Regions from separate parts of the Homo sapiens genome. Here region 2 is linked to region 1. A link means that fine-mapping ties the variant in region 1 to the expression of a gene that starts in the linked region. Tissue or cell type: whole blood. Region 1 holds a variant in brackets; the other region holds the start of a gene. All regions are shown on one strand. Distances are between the middles of the regions.

Region 1 (8,104 bases):
AGCCCTAAGAAAATTCTCTCCACCTTCCTCTTTGGCCAGCTTCTGTATTCTGTGGGTAAAGGCATAAAGAAGGCAGGTGAAACAAAGCTGTAATCACCCCAGAAAAATTGAAATGGGAGAGAAAAGAGTAGGTCTATGATAAAATTTTGGTTACCTTTTCATTGTAGAAAATTTCAAACATACACAAAAGTAGAGAGAATGGTTTACTGAACCCCGAAGAATCCATTACCCATCTTCAGCCAACAATGATGACTAATCTTGTTGCATTTTGATATGGTTTGGTTCTGTGTCCCCACCCAAATCTCATGTTCAATTGTAATCCCAGATGTTGAAGGTGGGGCCTGGTGGGAGGTGACTGGATCATGTGGGTGGTTTTTAATGGTTTAGCACCATCCCCCAGTACTACTCTCGTGACAGAGTTCTCACGAGATCTGGCTGTTTAAAAGTGTGTAGCACCTCCCTGCTCCCACTCTAACTCCTGCTCTGGCCATGAAAGACATGTCTGCTTCCCCTTTGCCTTCTGCCACGACTGTAAGTTTTCTGAGGCCTCCACAGCCATGTTTCCTATGCAGCCTGTGGAACCATGAGCCAATTAAAGCTCTTTTCTTTATAAATTACCCAGTTTCAGGTAGTTCTTTTTTTTTTTTTTGAGACGGAGTCTCACACTGTGTCCCAGGCTGGAGTGCAGTGGTGCGACCTTGGCTCACTGCAACCTCTGCCTTCTGGGTTCAAGCGATTCTCCTGCCTCAGCTTCCCAAGCATCTGGGATTACAGGTGCCCGCCACCACACCTGGCTAATTTTTGTATTTTTAGTTTAGGTTTCACCATGTTGGTCAGGCTGCTCTTGAACCCCTGACCTCAAGTGATCCGCCCACCTCGGCCTCCCAAAGTGCTGGGATTACAGGCGTGAGCCACCACGGCCTGGCCTCAGGCAGTTCTTTAAAGCAGTGTGAGAACGGACTAATACACATCTGTACTCACCACCCTCCTTCCCCACCCCCTATATTATTTTGAAGCAAACGTCAGACATTGTTATCTTTACATCCATTCTGTGATGACAATGATTCCGCTCAACAGCCCCACAAGGGACCAACTACAGTGCTCAGAGTTAACACATCTTGCTGCTTTTAAGACAAGGGTGAGATTCCAAGCCCCATGCAGTCCTAGAAAAGTGCTGGCATATTAAGAGGGAGGCACCACCACTAGGAATCTCAACCCAGGAAGAGCAGCCCCAGCCCTGCCCGCACCTGGCTAGGTCACCCTGGGTCAAGGCTTATTGCCGATGGGAAACTCACTTTCTCCACCAGTGAAGGTGGGTTAATGAGGCCCATCTGGCATCCACCAAAAGCCTCAGGGCATGGCAGGCTACACCCGTAAAAGTCACAGAGTGCTTGGCCAACATGAAGGGAGCTGCTGGAAAGTTTCATGCCCTCTGACAACTCCACACCTGTTTTACACACTTCAAGAGTCCTGGGAAGACACTGAAACCTTCTAGATGAGCCCAGAACTCATCTGAGCCAGATCCTGTCAAGGCAGCCCTGACTGTTTCAACATTACCAGGCTTTCTAGGCTCGACATCATCACTCACCCGACTCCTGCCTGGAAGCTCTGTCTCTCTTTAGCTAATTCTCCCCTTCTTCAAGGCCTTGTTTAGGAATCTCTTCCCTTTTTCACACCCCTCAGTCACACTGCCTTTTGCCATGGAACTTCTGGTAGCTCCTGTACTTATGCACTCATGTTTAAATCTTGTGTAATTTTGCACAAGAATAATTTGTCTCCCAGTTGGAGAGTGAACTCTTCCCAACTGAGAACCATGTCTTGTATTGCTTTGTAACTATCAGCACATAGAGAAGACTCTCAATCATCTTCCCAACTGAGAGCACCATGGACCATTCACAAGACTGCTTCCCAGGGCCAGAAGCCCTCTCTGTAGCGAGGAGGCTGGCAAGACCAATGGCTCTGAAACCAGACCCTCTGCCCTCAAAAGCACCTGGGAGTCTCATTCCCACCCGAAGCCTATTGAAGAGAATCTCTGGGCAAGAGGACTCCCCCCACAAAAAATCCCCTGATGACCCTCTGATGAAGTGACTGGGAGACACTGGTTTAAATTATTCCAAGTTCACTTCTGCATCAGAGAGATTATGATTCCATACTTATTGACGAAGTTTCCATAGAACAACCCAGAATATATTCCAATCATCTTGTCCAGGTCTGCAGGAAGAAGGCTACTCACTTTTTGTTGTTCCTTCAGATTTTCTCTTTCTTATTCATTTTGCATATTTATTAAACATCTATCATGTGAAAGGTTCTGCCTCAAATAAGCTGAGGAACTCCCTTGCCACAGGAAGTATATGGGGAGATAAGATATGTGCATGAAGAAATATTCAAGAGAGGAAATGAAAAATACCTTAAAATCTCTCCCTTCTCTCCCTATACTTTACCTGGTGAGCAAAAGATAAAGTTAGAGGAGAAAGAGCAATCAGAATTTCTCCCCACCTCTGCAAACCCTGGTGGGACCTCATATGCAGCCCCTTTGGCCCAGAGACACACATGGATACAGTGTTTGCCCTCTACCTTCCCGGTAGCCACTCTCCCTCCTCCTGATAGCAGCTGTTCCTCCCTCATCTTGCTCCAGAGCTCTAGGTGGGTCTCTGTCCCAGCTCTGAGGATGTAGCAGATGACACAGGTCCAGCCAATCACAGCATGGCCTAGCCCTGGCCAGAGATCAATTCAGGAATGTGCACCTGTGCTAAGCTAGTCCAGTCAGAGCGACTCTCTCTCAAAAGTCTCAGGACTTTTGTGGGAGCTTCTAGGAAAAAACTCTGGCTTTCTCTTGTTGAAGGAAAGGGAAGGGGGAGAAAGAGCTGCTGAGGTCACTGTAGCCATCATGCCACCTAGAGGAGAGAGCCTGGGCTGCTACGGCCCATCCCAGGGAGCCCCCAGTAAACAAAGCCAAAAGAGCAGAAGGCAGCGTGGAGAGAAACCAAGTCCTAATGAGGGTCTCTGGGTCCTGAATCCAGCCGCACCTGCAGCCAGATCTACTCCTGGACGTTTCATTTACATGCATCCATAAATTCTTTTTTTTTTTTTTTTTTTTTTTTTTTGCTTAAGCCAACAGGCTTAATGGAGATGAATTTCTGTTACGTGCAGACAGAGTGGCAGCTGATTCATATCAACATAGGGACCATAAAGCATGCATTACTATGTAGTTGAGACATACATTAAGTTGTTTTCACATCTGTTATTCCATGCGACCTTCACAATGCCTTAAGAGGGAATATGGCAGCTTGGGGAGCAGAAAAGCCCTGCTAAAGATCAGAAAATAATGTGTTCTGCGCCCTTTCTATTCAAAGTGTTCTCCGAGGACCACCAGCAGCAGCATCTCCTGGGACCTCGTTAGAAATACGCAATAACAGCACTACCCTAGATATGCTGAATCAAAGTGAGTTTTCACAACATCACCAAGTGATCTGTATGCACACTGAAGCTTGAGAAGCTCTGTTAGAATACTATCTCTGCGGCTTCTTGGCTGGGTGACTATAAGCAAATTACCTGATTTCTCAGGTTTTTTTCACATAGACAACAGAGATCATGATAACACACTATAACAATGCAGCTTTAGTGCAAAACCAAAACAGCACTAAGTTTTAATCATAGCTCTTCCAGTAGCTAAGTACAATCCTGGGCAAGTTCCTGAATTTCTATTAGCTTCAGATTCCTCATCTGTAAAACTGAGATAATAATACCTGTCTAACAGGACTGATGTCAGGATTAAATAATGTATGTAAACTTCTTTGCCCCAGAGTACCGGGACTCAATTAAAGGTATACATTATTGTTATTGTTGTACTCTTATAATTACTGCTATTATACACCCTACACACTTCACAGGGTACAGTGATTACGAGACTGAAAAGATAATGTATGAAAAAAAATACTTAAAGCCAAATAACTCAAAGTATAGTCCTTTCCTGATCTGTAAACTGAGGTTCACAGAGGTTAAGCAACTTTTCTAAGCTCACTAAAGCAGGAAGCGGTAGAGCCCAGGCTGACATCACCATCTTCCAATCTAGGATAGGTCACATGGTTGTCAGTGGTTCTTTGTTTATTTGC[T/C]TTTTCTCCCACCAGACTGAGCTCCTCGCCAGCTTGCTACTTCTCCCTCCATGGCACCTGGCCCAGTTCCACCCACGGTGAGCACTCAGTGCACATTTGCTGAAAGCAAAACTCGACCATCTGACCTCTTTAACCCATGTTTTTTGCACCACCCCAAACTATCTCCCTCAGGAAGGTATTGCTATGCTTTGGTACTTTAATTTAAGAAGCCAATTACTGCCGTTAATCCTAATTAGAAACTTATGACAACATCTCATTTGGAGACCAAAGCTCTACTGGGAACTTAGTGTAGAAATTCAATTCCAGCCCCCAGGGAAGAATCCAGGAGACCAGGAACTTTGGTTGGATATAGAATGGGGTGGGATGCTTACTTGTCTGAAAGAAGCAATATACTTTTATTAGGAAAAAAAAAAAAAAAAAAGCCAGGTTCTGCCTGAAGGAGAACTGTTAGTAAAGGAATTTCAGAGGCAATGATGCAAGCAAAGCAGATTCAGGACTCTGGAAGCTGGTTGACACAGTGCCCATCTACATATGGAGACTTGTCAGAATGCCAGTCCTAGCCAGAAACATCCACTAAGCCTTTGTCTTCTAACTTCAACCTTGAAGGTGGATTAAGGCCTGTGGGTCTTAGACAAAATGGACCCTAAGTCAATGTGGAATGAGCTAAAGTGAACGGGAAAATCCCTATTAAATGGAACAGTAGAAAGCACAAAATAAGAGGGTAGATTCAAACACTAATACAGCATTAATTACAAGAAATCCAAATAGACTACGTGCTCCAGTTAAGAGAACTCCTGCAAACCAATAAGAAGACACAATGCAAAAGAAAAGCATGGGCAGATGACCTGAAAAGAAACAGCCCATCAGAGAAGATCCAGATGGAACAGCCAACAAACAGATGAAAAAGTGCTCAATCTCCATGCGCAATTAGGGGAATAAAATATAAAACTGTGATAAACTGGCCAGGCACGGTGGTTCACGCTTGTAATCCCAGCACTTTGGGAGGCTGAGGCGGGCAGATCATAAGGTCAGGATATTGAGACCATCCTGGCCAATATGGCGAAACCCTGTCTCTATTAAAATACAAAAAAAAAAAAAAAAAAAGTAGCCAGGCATGGTGGTGTGTGCCTGTAGTCCCAGCTACTCGGGAGGTGGGGAAGGAGAATTGCTTGAACCTGGGAGGTGGAGATTGCAGTGAGCCAAAATTGCACCACTGCGCTCCAGCCTGGTGACAGAGCAAGACTCCGTCTCAAAAACAAAACAAAACAAAACTGTGATAAACCATGATACTCTCCCACGACAGGCAAAAATTTAAAAGTTGGACAAGACAATGTGTTAGCAAGAATGTGGACCATTGAAAACTTTTTTTTTTTTTTTGAGACGGAGTTTCACTTTTGTTGCCCAGGCTAGAGTGCAGTGGCACAATCTTGGCTCACTGCAACCTCTGCCTCCCAGGTTAAAGCGATTCTCCTGCCTCAGCCTCCCGAGTAGCTGAGATTACAGGCGCCTGCCACCACGCCTGGCTAATTTTTGTATTTTTAGTAGAGACGGGGTTTCACCATGTTGGCCAGGCTGCTCTTGAACCCCTGACCTCGTGATCCACCCACCTTGGTCTCCCAAAGTGCTGGGATTACAGGGGTGAGCCACCACGCCCGGCCGAAAACTCTAATACACTACTAGTAGGAGTATAAATTTGAGACAACTAATTTTGGAAAGAGCTTGCTATCATCTAGGAAAGTTGAGGTAAGCATGCCTTATGATGCAGCTATCTCAATCTTAGTTATGTATGTACCTCTAGTTATATGCTCAAGTGCATATATACCAGGATGACATGTTTGAGAAGGTTCAGATTAGCCTTGTCCCTAAAACAACTCAAATGTCCATCAACAGTAGAATGGATAAACTGTATAGCCATACAATGGAAATGTATATAACAATGAAAATAAATAGACATGCCCAACAACATGGATGGCATCATGTTGAATGAAAGAAGCAAGATCTGTAAGAACACAGCATAATTCCATTTATATAAAGTTCAAAAACAGGCAAAACTAAACCATAATGTTTAGGGAGGCATATACAGGTGATAGAACTATAAGGAAAAGCACAGATATGATTATCATTGAAGTCAGGAGAGTAGAGAGGGAGGGGTTGAACAGGAGGAGGGACTCACGGGAGCTTCTGGATGCTGTCCATATTCTATTTCTTGACTTTGGTGGTGGTTTTACGGGATTTGTGAGATCTCACCCATTATTACTTTTTAAACCATACAATATATAATCAGCCATTTTTCTGTGTGTTCTGTTATACTTCACAATAAAACAAAAAAGAAGGAAAGAAAAGAAAGAAACGTAGATCAGCTAAAACAAAAGCAAACCCTGGTTTGGAACTATTTGAATGCATCCCTGAGTTCTGACAGTGGCCAATTCAGCCAAGGGCTGCTTAGAAGGACTTCTATGAGGCTTAAGACGTAAATATGAAGGAGAGAGAAGAGAACAAGAGATCAAGGGGGTGACAGAAGAAGAAAATGTTACTGAAGGTCTGTATAGGGAGAGAAGGTTGTATTCAAGGGTTTATGCCTGGAACTCTCAGCACCTTTCCCTTCTGACTTCCTCCTTTAAAAGTTCCCCTGTGAACATCTTCTTCTGGAAAACTTTCCTTGGCTCCCAGGTAGTCTCAGGCGTCTCTTTGCACTTTGTATTTACCTCAAGAGCACTTTTCTTGCCATGCTGCAATGGTTTGCCTCGAGATCCTCAAAGGCAGTGTGTAATTTCTGAATCTTTTCCTATCCTCTCCTTTCCACCAGCGTTTAGGTCAGTGCCTAACACGGAGGAGAAACTCATCTGGTGCTTGTTGAATGACTGAATGAGCAAGATAATGCTTTACCTTGAGCTGCAATTCCTTGTATCTCTTGGACATCCGAATGAGCAACTTCTCACCATTGATCACAGCAGATTTTTCTTGATAATACTGGACCATGGCCTGTGCAGCTTCTGTGTAAGCCATCTCTAAAAAGGCCTAAGAAAGAAAGGAAGGACACTCACTGGACTTGACTTTAATGGTCTTAAACAAGATTCAGCACAAGGCATGATTCCACGTCTATGAAGTTCAAGAACAGGCAAAACTAATCAACGGTGACAGGAGTTAGCATTGAGCTTCTCTCTCAGGTGGGGATGGGGAACTGATGGAGAAGAAGCATAAGGAAACCTGACATTCTGGAAATGCTCTATATCTTTACCTGGGTGTTAATTATATGGGTGTACACATGTAACCGATTAATGGAATTGTACACTTAGGATGAGTGTACATTATGCACTGTAGAGTATGTGTTTTATACCTCACTTAAAAGGAAAAAAAGTCAGCACAAGGAAGAGATCTCTTTGATCCCATCTGTTCAAAGAGACCTTTTTATAAACATCACCAAAAGAGCTCATTATAAGATGGCCCTTTCCTGATCCCCAGGGTTACCAGACATTGTTATTAATTATGTATGTCTGTCCTGGGCTACATCATGCCATGGAATACCTCTGAGATGGAAGAGCCCACTAACCCACATTTCCCTGGAGGGGCAGTTGCATATGTGGCCTTGAGCTGATCCCTATAAAACTTGCTCTCTGGTGGTGATGGTGACAGCAAGAGACACAAGCTTTGGTTATTTGAGTTCTACTTTCCTTATAAAAAAATTCAGGAACTCACAAACCCCTAGGCTTGAAGGAAGGCCATGTTGTTGTGAGTTAAAGAAAAAGGAAAACTTCCCGATTATGTTTCCACAGCATCTTTCTTCTTTATTTAACTGCTCTGATAAAACACAGACAAATGGGCTTTTCCACTAAACCTGTGTCTACTGAGAGTTCCAAAGAGACCGTTTTGACTGTGCATCAGTTTACCCCAGTAGTTGGTGTGGTGAATTTGTTGCTGCTATTGTTTTTTGGATTTGTTTGGTTTGTACTATACTGACAATATACTGATCCTGATTCCTCAATGCTGCAGGG
Region 2 (8,104 bases), 68 kb before region 1:
TTGGATATAAGTCCTTCTGGTCATTTACAATCAGGTTGCTAGCAGTGTGCTCTTCAGAGATATAAAATGCACAAATTAGTGAAAATGCCTAATAAATTAATTACAGAAAAGCACATTTTTTCCTATATAACTTAACCTACTGTTAGATGTCATTTTAGGATAACAATGATATATACAGAGCCTCCTGGGACTCAAAGGTGAAACTGACTTTTAAATTCCTCATTATGTACTACTATTTGCTAACATAAGTTTATAGCCCTTTTCTTCAGAAAACGGTATTATTTTGTGAAACAAAAACAAATGGACCTTATGTTAAAATTATAGGCTTCTTACTATGGTATAATCCTCAGACTAATATGCTATCATATTGCTTGGGAACTTAAGAAAATGGTGAGATCATTCTCTAATTCTGTTAAGAATAAATTAATATATGTGAATCTTTATAATCACTTTTCACTATAACTCCCGCCAACTTTAGATATGAAAAAAAAATCTTAAAAATATGTAGAGATTCATATAAATATATGAACAAAAATGGTTTGCAAATCTAAACACTCAGCATCCTTCATGGCTGAAAAGGCTACATTCTGTTTTAATTCCATGCATGAAATACATATAGGAAAGGAATAATGTCATATGATACGTGTTTCAGTTTTTTAGAGTTCCATTACAAAGTCTTTTTCATTCTTGATGAAAGTATAACTTTTGAGAGAATACTTTCTGCAGAACCTAATAAGCGAAATGATTATAATTGATGTTCATAAAGCCCTTTACAATTCAAAAAGAATTGTACATGTATTATTTAATGTACCTTACAGAAAAACCTTCGGGTAGGTATTCCACCTTACACACAACTAAACAGATTCAGAGAGGGTAGGTGATATGTCCAAGGACAGACAGCTGCTTAGTGGAACAGCCAGGATGAGAATCCAGACCTTCCAAATCCAGTACTGTTTGCACAAGTTCAATCCAAAATTTTAATATCCCACAGGAAGATTCTTTTCAAGGGTTAACAGAAGCTTCTTAAAACAGACTTCTGCTGTTCAAACTTTTAAATGCTGTTTTCCAAACACTAAAAATAATTATTTTAAACTATTATACAGAAGGCATTCCGTCAGACAAAACTGTCAGGAAATGACTATCATCTCTTTTATTAAGATAAAAACAAAGTTATCTTAATAAAAAAAATAGTCCTGTGTCTTTAGGCAATGATAACCCGATCAGGAACTCAAGTCATATTTGACAGCAACAAACACGTTTTAAGAGTTTAGATAAGACATGTTCCACGTTTTTACGCTCTTTAAAGTAGTAGGATTTTTTCCAATTTATTTAACAACCCTTAATTGGCCCAAACAAGAAAATATAAAGCAAAAAATCCAAACGCTATTTCCTTCATACTAACCTACAAAAATGAATTTTCGATGAGAAAACTATACATACAAGTTAGAAGAAAATGAAGGCTGACATTAAACACTGTTCTTTTCTCCAGTGTGTTACACGAAATATACAATCAGAAGTATTCAACTGCCAAGACATTCCCTAAGAGACAGACCCTCCACTCCCCCACGAAATATATACATATGTATTTCCTGAAATATACCTCATAAATTGCTCTGGCATTTTGGGGAGTCAAGCTTTGGCCATTTATTAACTAGGATTACTTGTATTCATTCTTCGGCTACGAACGGCTAATTAGCAGCTTAAAACCAGCTAAAAGCATTCTACTACAGTAATGCAAAAGCAAGCACTACAGATAATATTCAAGCGGCATTTATTTTTGCAGTCCTAATATTTTTTCCTTTCACATTAGTACCACAGAAAAAGCCAGTCAATTATAATTCAAATACACTTACTGAGATATTAACGTATTCAATAAGCCTATAATGAAGGAATATTAAGGGCATAAATACCAGTAACTCCTTGCTTAAAAAGCACTTGGTGGTTTCCCAAAAAAGTCACGTTAAGAATATCAAGATTGTAACAATTAAAGTAAAAATACAAGTTAAAAACAGGGGAAACCCTTTTTTCCCCGACACCTAATCGCATTTCTGATCGTTTTCATCATTTGTAGACACTACACAGTTGCTGGCTACGTAGCGAGTTCTCACAAGGGGGAGGGGGGCGAAATTGACGTCTGCAGACAGTTTTGAAGCTCTTGCAAAACCCCATGTACGTTACAGCATCAAACTGACAAATGGAGAAGATGGCATGCGTTTCACAGAAAGGGGGCTCCCTTCCCGGCTTTGTTTTCTCTGGGAGATTTTATTTTACCTAAACTAAAAAAAAGAGACCCTTTGCCGGAAGACGGGCGCGACGAAGTTCGCGCAGGGATGGGGCGGCGGGCACGTGTTCGCCTCCCAGCGCCCCCGGCGAGGATAGCGCGCGGCCCCTCCCCACAGCGGCCGGGCCTGTTCTCCCGCAGCGGGCTCAGGCTAGGACCCCCGAAGTCCCAGCCCGGGTCGGCCCCCGGAAGGGGCTGGGCCGGGGCCGAGGCCGGGGCTCCGGGTTCACGAAGGACAGGGGGCCGCATCTTCAGAGGATTCCCAGGGAGGGCAGGGGGCGGGGAGGGCGCGAATCTTCCTCACAGGATTTCAGTCCAGCCGGAAACACGCCTTCCAATCCCGGCCCCCGAATTCAACCTCCGCCAGAGGGGGAGGAGGGCTGAGGGGGACCTTCAAGGGCGAGCGCCTCGCGCGCCCCTCTCAGTGGGGAGATGGCTCCGGGAGGGGGCGGGCCCGCGCCGACACGCTCCAGGCTGGGCTCAGAAAGAGGGAACCAGGCCGGATGCCCGCAGTCCGGGGCGTTGGGGAGGGCGCGGCTGGACCTGCGGGGCTACAAGAAGGCAGCCGGACCCCCGCACCGCAGGCCCGGACCTGACAGGACCGCGACCCCCACGCCTCCGCCCCCGCCCCCTCCCATCTTGCGGCTGCCTCCGAGGAGGGATGGGGGAGAGGGCGCAGTCTTCCCGAGCGTGTGAGCCGCGCCTACTGGTACTGACCCCTCGGGCCCCCGCCGCTGCTCGCCCAGGTTCCTGGTCAGCCGGCCCCGACCCCGCTCTTCTGTCTCTGCCGCCGCCTCGGAGAGTCTCTGGCCCTTCTCGCTCTGTTTGTTTTTGTTTTCTTCTACCCAGTAACACGGGGGCGAGAGGGCGGCGCTTATTGGCCGAGGCCGGGTGGTCGGCTGGCCAATCGTGGCGGCGGAGCCGGAGCTGAGGAGGAAAAGGGAGAGGAGTGAAACGTGGAAAGTTGGGGAGGGGCGCGGGAGGGCGCATGCGCATGTGGCTCCTGGGACTGGCTGGAGCGGGAGTTGAGCGGGAAGTCGGGGTGGGGGTATGTTGGGAGGCGTGGCGGGATGGGAGCGTTGGGAAAAGGGCAGTGCTGGGGGATGGGGACGAGGATGAAGCTTCCTCGACCCAGCTCACCCATTCTCCTCACAGGGCGTTCTGCAAACTCGGCTGAAGCAAAGGTTTTGAGCTTCCTGATGGTCCCTGCCTCCATTTCTAGAAACTGCTTAGGCGAACACTCCAAGTGATCAGCCTGTCCGATTCCTCCTCCCTCTGGCCGCTGCTTTCTCTGTGGCTTCCAGTTTCTGGAGATCCCATGCTAAGAAGTTTCTCTCAGCGAATCCCCTCAAACCTTTGAGATGGAAATAATTCCCATTTCACAGATATAAAGCAGGCTCCAAAACTCTTTGAAGTTCCTTTGCTAATCATGACTAGCCAAGCCTCTGGCGTTCAAACGCACAAATTCCGGCCTCCAGTGCTGGGGTTCTCAGCCATGGCTACAATTTCTGTATTGAAACTTCCACCTCCCCTCGCTGTTCTCTGTGACTTTTCCTCTTGGCTGCATTGGTTTTGGCTGGTACTATCCTTACTCTTTCAAGGTCACGGTCCCCTGAGGGTGATAACCAGAACCTTAGGCTTCCTTTGTGTTCCCAGGCGGGGACTTAGCCACTGCCTCTGATCAGATTTTTCAGTTGTCTGATGGGCAGCACCGAATGATTGCTTGTGCTCTCCAGAACCCAACTGCCTCATCCCGCACAGGCCAGCGCTTTCCCTTGGCTGCCCAGTCACCCTGCCTGGGAATCATCTCTAATGCTACTATTTCTCTGCACACACACGCACACACACACACACAAACCTTCACTGGCTTCCCATTGCCTCTCTTGAGTGTCAGCGCCTCGGTCGGTCATTCAAGGCTCCGTGATGTGACTTCAAGACTTTCAGGCTGTGTCTCCACACATCTCCCCATATGCTTCCTCACCCCCTGGTAGTTCTTTATATATCACCTTGAAATGTCTCTCTTCTCATCTCCTATCTCCGCCTGATGCAATCCTTCTGTGCCTCATGGCCCTTCCTGGTAGTTTTTTATTTTGTTGTTGTTGTTGTTTTATTTAATTGAGGCAGGGGCTTGCCCTTTAGCCCAGGAGAATGCAGTGGCATGATCACAGCTCACTGCTGCCTCGACCTCCGTCAGCCTCCCTAGCTCAACGATCCTCTCACCTCAGCCTCCTGAGTAACTGGGACTACAGGCACAGCTCACTATGCCCAGCTAATTTTTGTATTTTCTGTACACACAGGGTTTCATCATGTTGTCCAGGCTGGTCTTGAACTCCTGGGCTCAAGCAATCAGCCCACCTCTGCCTCCCAAAGCGTTGAGATTACAAGCGTGAGCCACCATTCCTGGACCCTCGTAGTTTTTCTGGAGCCTCGTGATTTGATATGATCTTCCTGCCGCTGATTCCTCACAGTGTTGGCTTGCCACACCTCCAGGGGCACTGATCACATTCTACCTGGCATTATTTCATCTGAGTCCCTGTCCTAGCCCTTCTGCCCATTAGACTGTAACCTTGTTTAGGGAAAGACCTGTGTCTTACTCATCTGTGATTTTGTTGTTGTTGTTGTTTTGAGACAGGGTCTTGCCCTGTTGCCCAGGCTGGAGAGCAGTGGTGCAATCTTGGCTCACTGCAGCCTCAACCTGTTGGGGTCAAGCCATCCTCCCACCTCAGCTTTCCAAGTAGCTGAGACTACAGGCCTGTGCCACCACACCCAGCTAGTTTTTTGTATTTTTAGTAGAGATGGGGTTTTGCCATGTTGCCCAGGCTTCTCTTGAACTCCTGAGCTCAAGGGATCTGCCTGCCTCGGCCTCCCAAAGTGCTGGGATTACAGGCGTGAGCCACTGTGCCTGACCCACTCACCTGTCATTGTAGTACTTAAGATGCCTTGTTCATTTATTGTGCCTGTGCAATAAATACACCTTGATTTGAGTTTACAAAGATTCTCAGCAGTTGGTGGTCATCCTCATCTCCTGGGCGGGGGCCTCCTGGTGTGGCCAGTATCTGAATTAGTCTCATAACTCATGTTCACTTTTTAAAATCGGAGCTTCCCAGACCTCAGTTTTGTTTTGTTATTTTCCATTATCTGCAGCTGTCTCCTTTCCCCTCTCTCACCTATACTCTACTGATCAGTGACTGCTGGCTCCTTTGTTACCCATCCTTCTCTTTCTCCACATTTTTTCTCTTCTCATCCCTTTCAGTTCTGGACTGTTTCCTTCTTCCTCCCTGTCTTTCATTTAGTCATTCATTGAATGTACTTACTAAGCACATATAGCATAATCAGGCTGTGTTGGGTAGGCATCCCGAGTTCTATGAGATAAAGAAAGAATGGGATATGATTACCAATTTTAAGAAGCATCTAAAACAACCTGTTATGTTTTAGCAAATTGCCCCCAAAGGACCCATTAGGGAGGAAAACGTTCATGTCCTTTTTGCGTATCATCTCAAGCAGTACCCATGATGGCTGGGATCCCAGAACCCACCTTTGAGAATGCTGCCGTATTTGCGTGTGGTTGACAAGGTTGGGCCAGACACTCAGGAAATAGGGTTGTCGTCCTACCTCCCCCACTAACTTCCTGTAAGAACTTCAGCCCCTCTCAGGACCTTTTTCTTTACCAATAAAATTCAGAAATTGGGCTCAATCAGTAATTCCCAAGTTATTTTCCAAAGAACATGAATTTTGTGGAACTTTAATAGATATCATGCAAAAAAAAATGTGGGAGGGATTGTTCCATGGTCAAATGGTCTTGGAAATAACTCGTTTAAACAAAAATAAAACTGTTTCTTTACCCACAACTCTTCTCAGTGGTTTTTTGTTTGTTTGTTTGTTTTTTGAGATGAAGTTTTGCTCTTGTCGCCCAGTTTGGAGTGTAATGGCACTATTTTGACTCACTGCAACCTGTGCCTCCTGGATTCAAGTGATTCTCCTGCCTCAGCCTCCCCAGTAACTGGGATTATAGGCGCCTGCCACCACGCCTGGCTAATATTTATATTTGTAGTAGAGTTGAGGTTTCACCATGTTGGCCAGGCTGGTCTCGAACCCCTGATCTCAAGTGATCTGCCCTCCTCGGCCTCCCAAAGTGCTGGGGTTACAGGCATGAGCCACCGTGCCCAGCCTTCTCAGTGTTTTTAATAAGCTATGTGCCTTTAGTGTCTTGGGAGACCAAGGTAGGAAGATTAGTAATGTTTCCTACCTTGTTTAAACACAGAACCTTTTTTTCTCAAGATACCCCAGAAGCAGTGTTATTTAGAAACCAACTTGGGAAATATAGATGACAGCCACTGTCACCAACATTCCTTCCAGCTGTGTTGAACACTTAGTCACCTGTGCCTTTGCAGCTGAACATTTAACAAAAAAAATTTTTTTAAGAATAAGCTGAAAATGGAGAAGTATCCAAGTGCCAAGAATTTTTGCCTACCAAATCAATCCACAAATATTTTAGTGTGTGCCTGTTCTATGAAAAGCACAGTTGATTCAGCTGTGTTCTTGGTAAAAGGCATTATACTACTTTAGGGTAGGTAATATCTGAAGCCTAGGGCTGCCCGGGCTTCTGGGCCACAATGTATGTTTTCATTTCACGTTGTAATTGTCACAAACTAGGTTTCTGTTACCTGAATCCCTGTGCCTATGGGCTTATGTTAATTTAGCTATTAGATGACAGAAAAGGAGAGAGGCCTTCCCCTTAACTCACTCTATACAGAATAATGGAATTGCAACTTCCATTTCCCTTAAGAAAGATTCATTCCAAGAGCTTAGGAGAGGAAGGGAGATCACAGTTGCCCAGAACAAGACAGCTGCTCAGAGGTGGCAACAGAAACTCTGTGCTTTGTGAGTAGATAAACGTTACATACTTCATCTTCCCCGTACTCCTCAGGCTTAAGCAGTATTGAGATACTTGGAGGGGCGCAAAGAGTGTTTGGTTTTGTCAGGGGAGAGGGTGGGAGATAGTTCCTATTTTTCGCCTCTTAAGACAAGGTAGTGACCCTGTCCCTAACTAGCTGTGTTGCTTTGGGTGTTTCACTTCCTCTCCCTGAGTGAATTGAATGCTTCAATTTTCTGTGCTGTAAAAGAAGGAGGTGCCCATTGCAGGGAGTCCATAAGCAGCCATTCAGTTCTAACACCCTGGGATGCTGAGCAAGGTACTGAGTTGGTACCATGGGAGTCCTGGGAATGGAGAACAAGAGATAAGAAAGTTTGCTGGCCGGGTGTGGTAGCTCATGCCTGTAATCCCAGCACTTTAGGAGGCCAAGGTGGGCGGATCACTTGAGGCCAGGAGTTTGAGACCAGCCTGACCAACATGGTGAAACCCCATCTCTACTAAAAATACAAAAAAATTAGCTGGGCGTGGTGGTGCATGCCTGTAGTCCCAGCTATTCAGGAGACTGAGGCAGGAGAATCTCTTGAACCTAGGAGGCGAAGGTTGCAGTGAGCTGAGATCCCGCCACTGCACTCCAGCCTGGGTGACAGAGACAGACTCCACCTCAAAACAAACAAACAAAGGAGTTTGCCACTGTTGGCAGGAGAGGATTCCACCGGGTATGGACAGAGGGACTGTCAACCCAGGGGCTTTCTCCTAATGCAAAGCTCAGATAATATCACCTCCCTCCATCCCAAAGGCAAAGTGATGGCTGGTGTGGGTTTAGGAGCACTAATTAATTAATTTGGGTAAAGTACTTGAAAAAGCACAGTTGAAGGCAAAAGATAAGCACCTAGATTTACTATTAATGCCTTTGGAACTCTCCAAGGCCTTTTCATTCTTAGGGTAAAGCC

What was found. PIP is the estimated chance that this variant, and not a neighbour inherited with it, causes the effect.
Region 2: PDCD4 starts here. The variant in region 1 is fine-mapped to the expression of PDCD4 in whole blood (TOPMed, PIP 0.97).

What each region holds. Positions count from the first base shown.
Region 1 is chr10:110,798,813-110,806,916 of GRCh38, reverse strand. RBM20 (RNA binding motif protein 20) reads right to left here. Exons shown (of 14, transcript NM_001134363.3): 7 at 6,999-7,130. Among named protein-coding and RNA genes, the nearest start is that of PDCD4-AS1, 68 kb to the left of the region's middle. The variant T/C (reference allele first, on the strand shown) is at 4,113.
Region 2 is chr10:110,866,913-110,875,016 of GRCh38, reverse strand. It overlaps PDCD4 (programmed cell death 4), which reads right to left and starts at 3,089. Exons shown (of 12, transcript NM_014456.5): 1 at 2,999-3,089. PDCD4-AS1 (PDCD4 antisense RNA 1) reads left to right here and starts at 4,113. Exons shown (of 1, transcript NR_026932.1): 1 at 4,113-6,127. RefSeq lists silencers at 2,337-2,536, 2,747-2,896, 2,927-2,976, 7,229-7,298 and enhancers at 3,981-4,591, 7,419-7,468.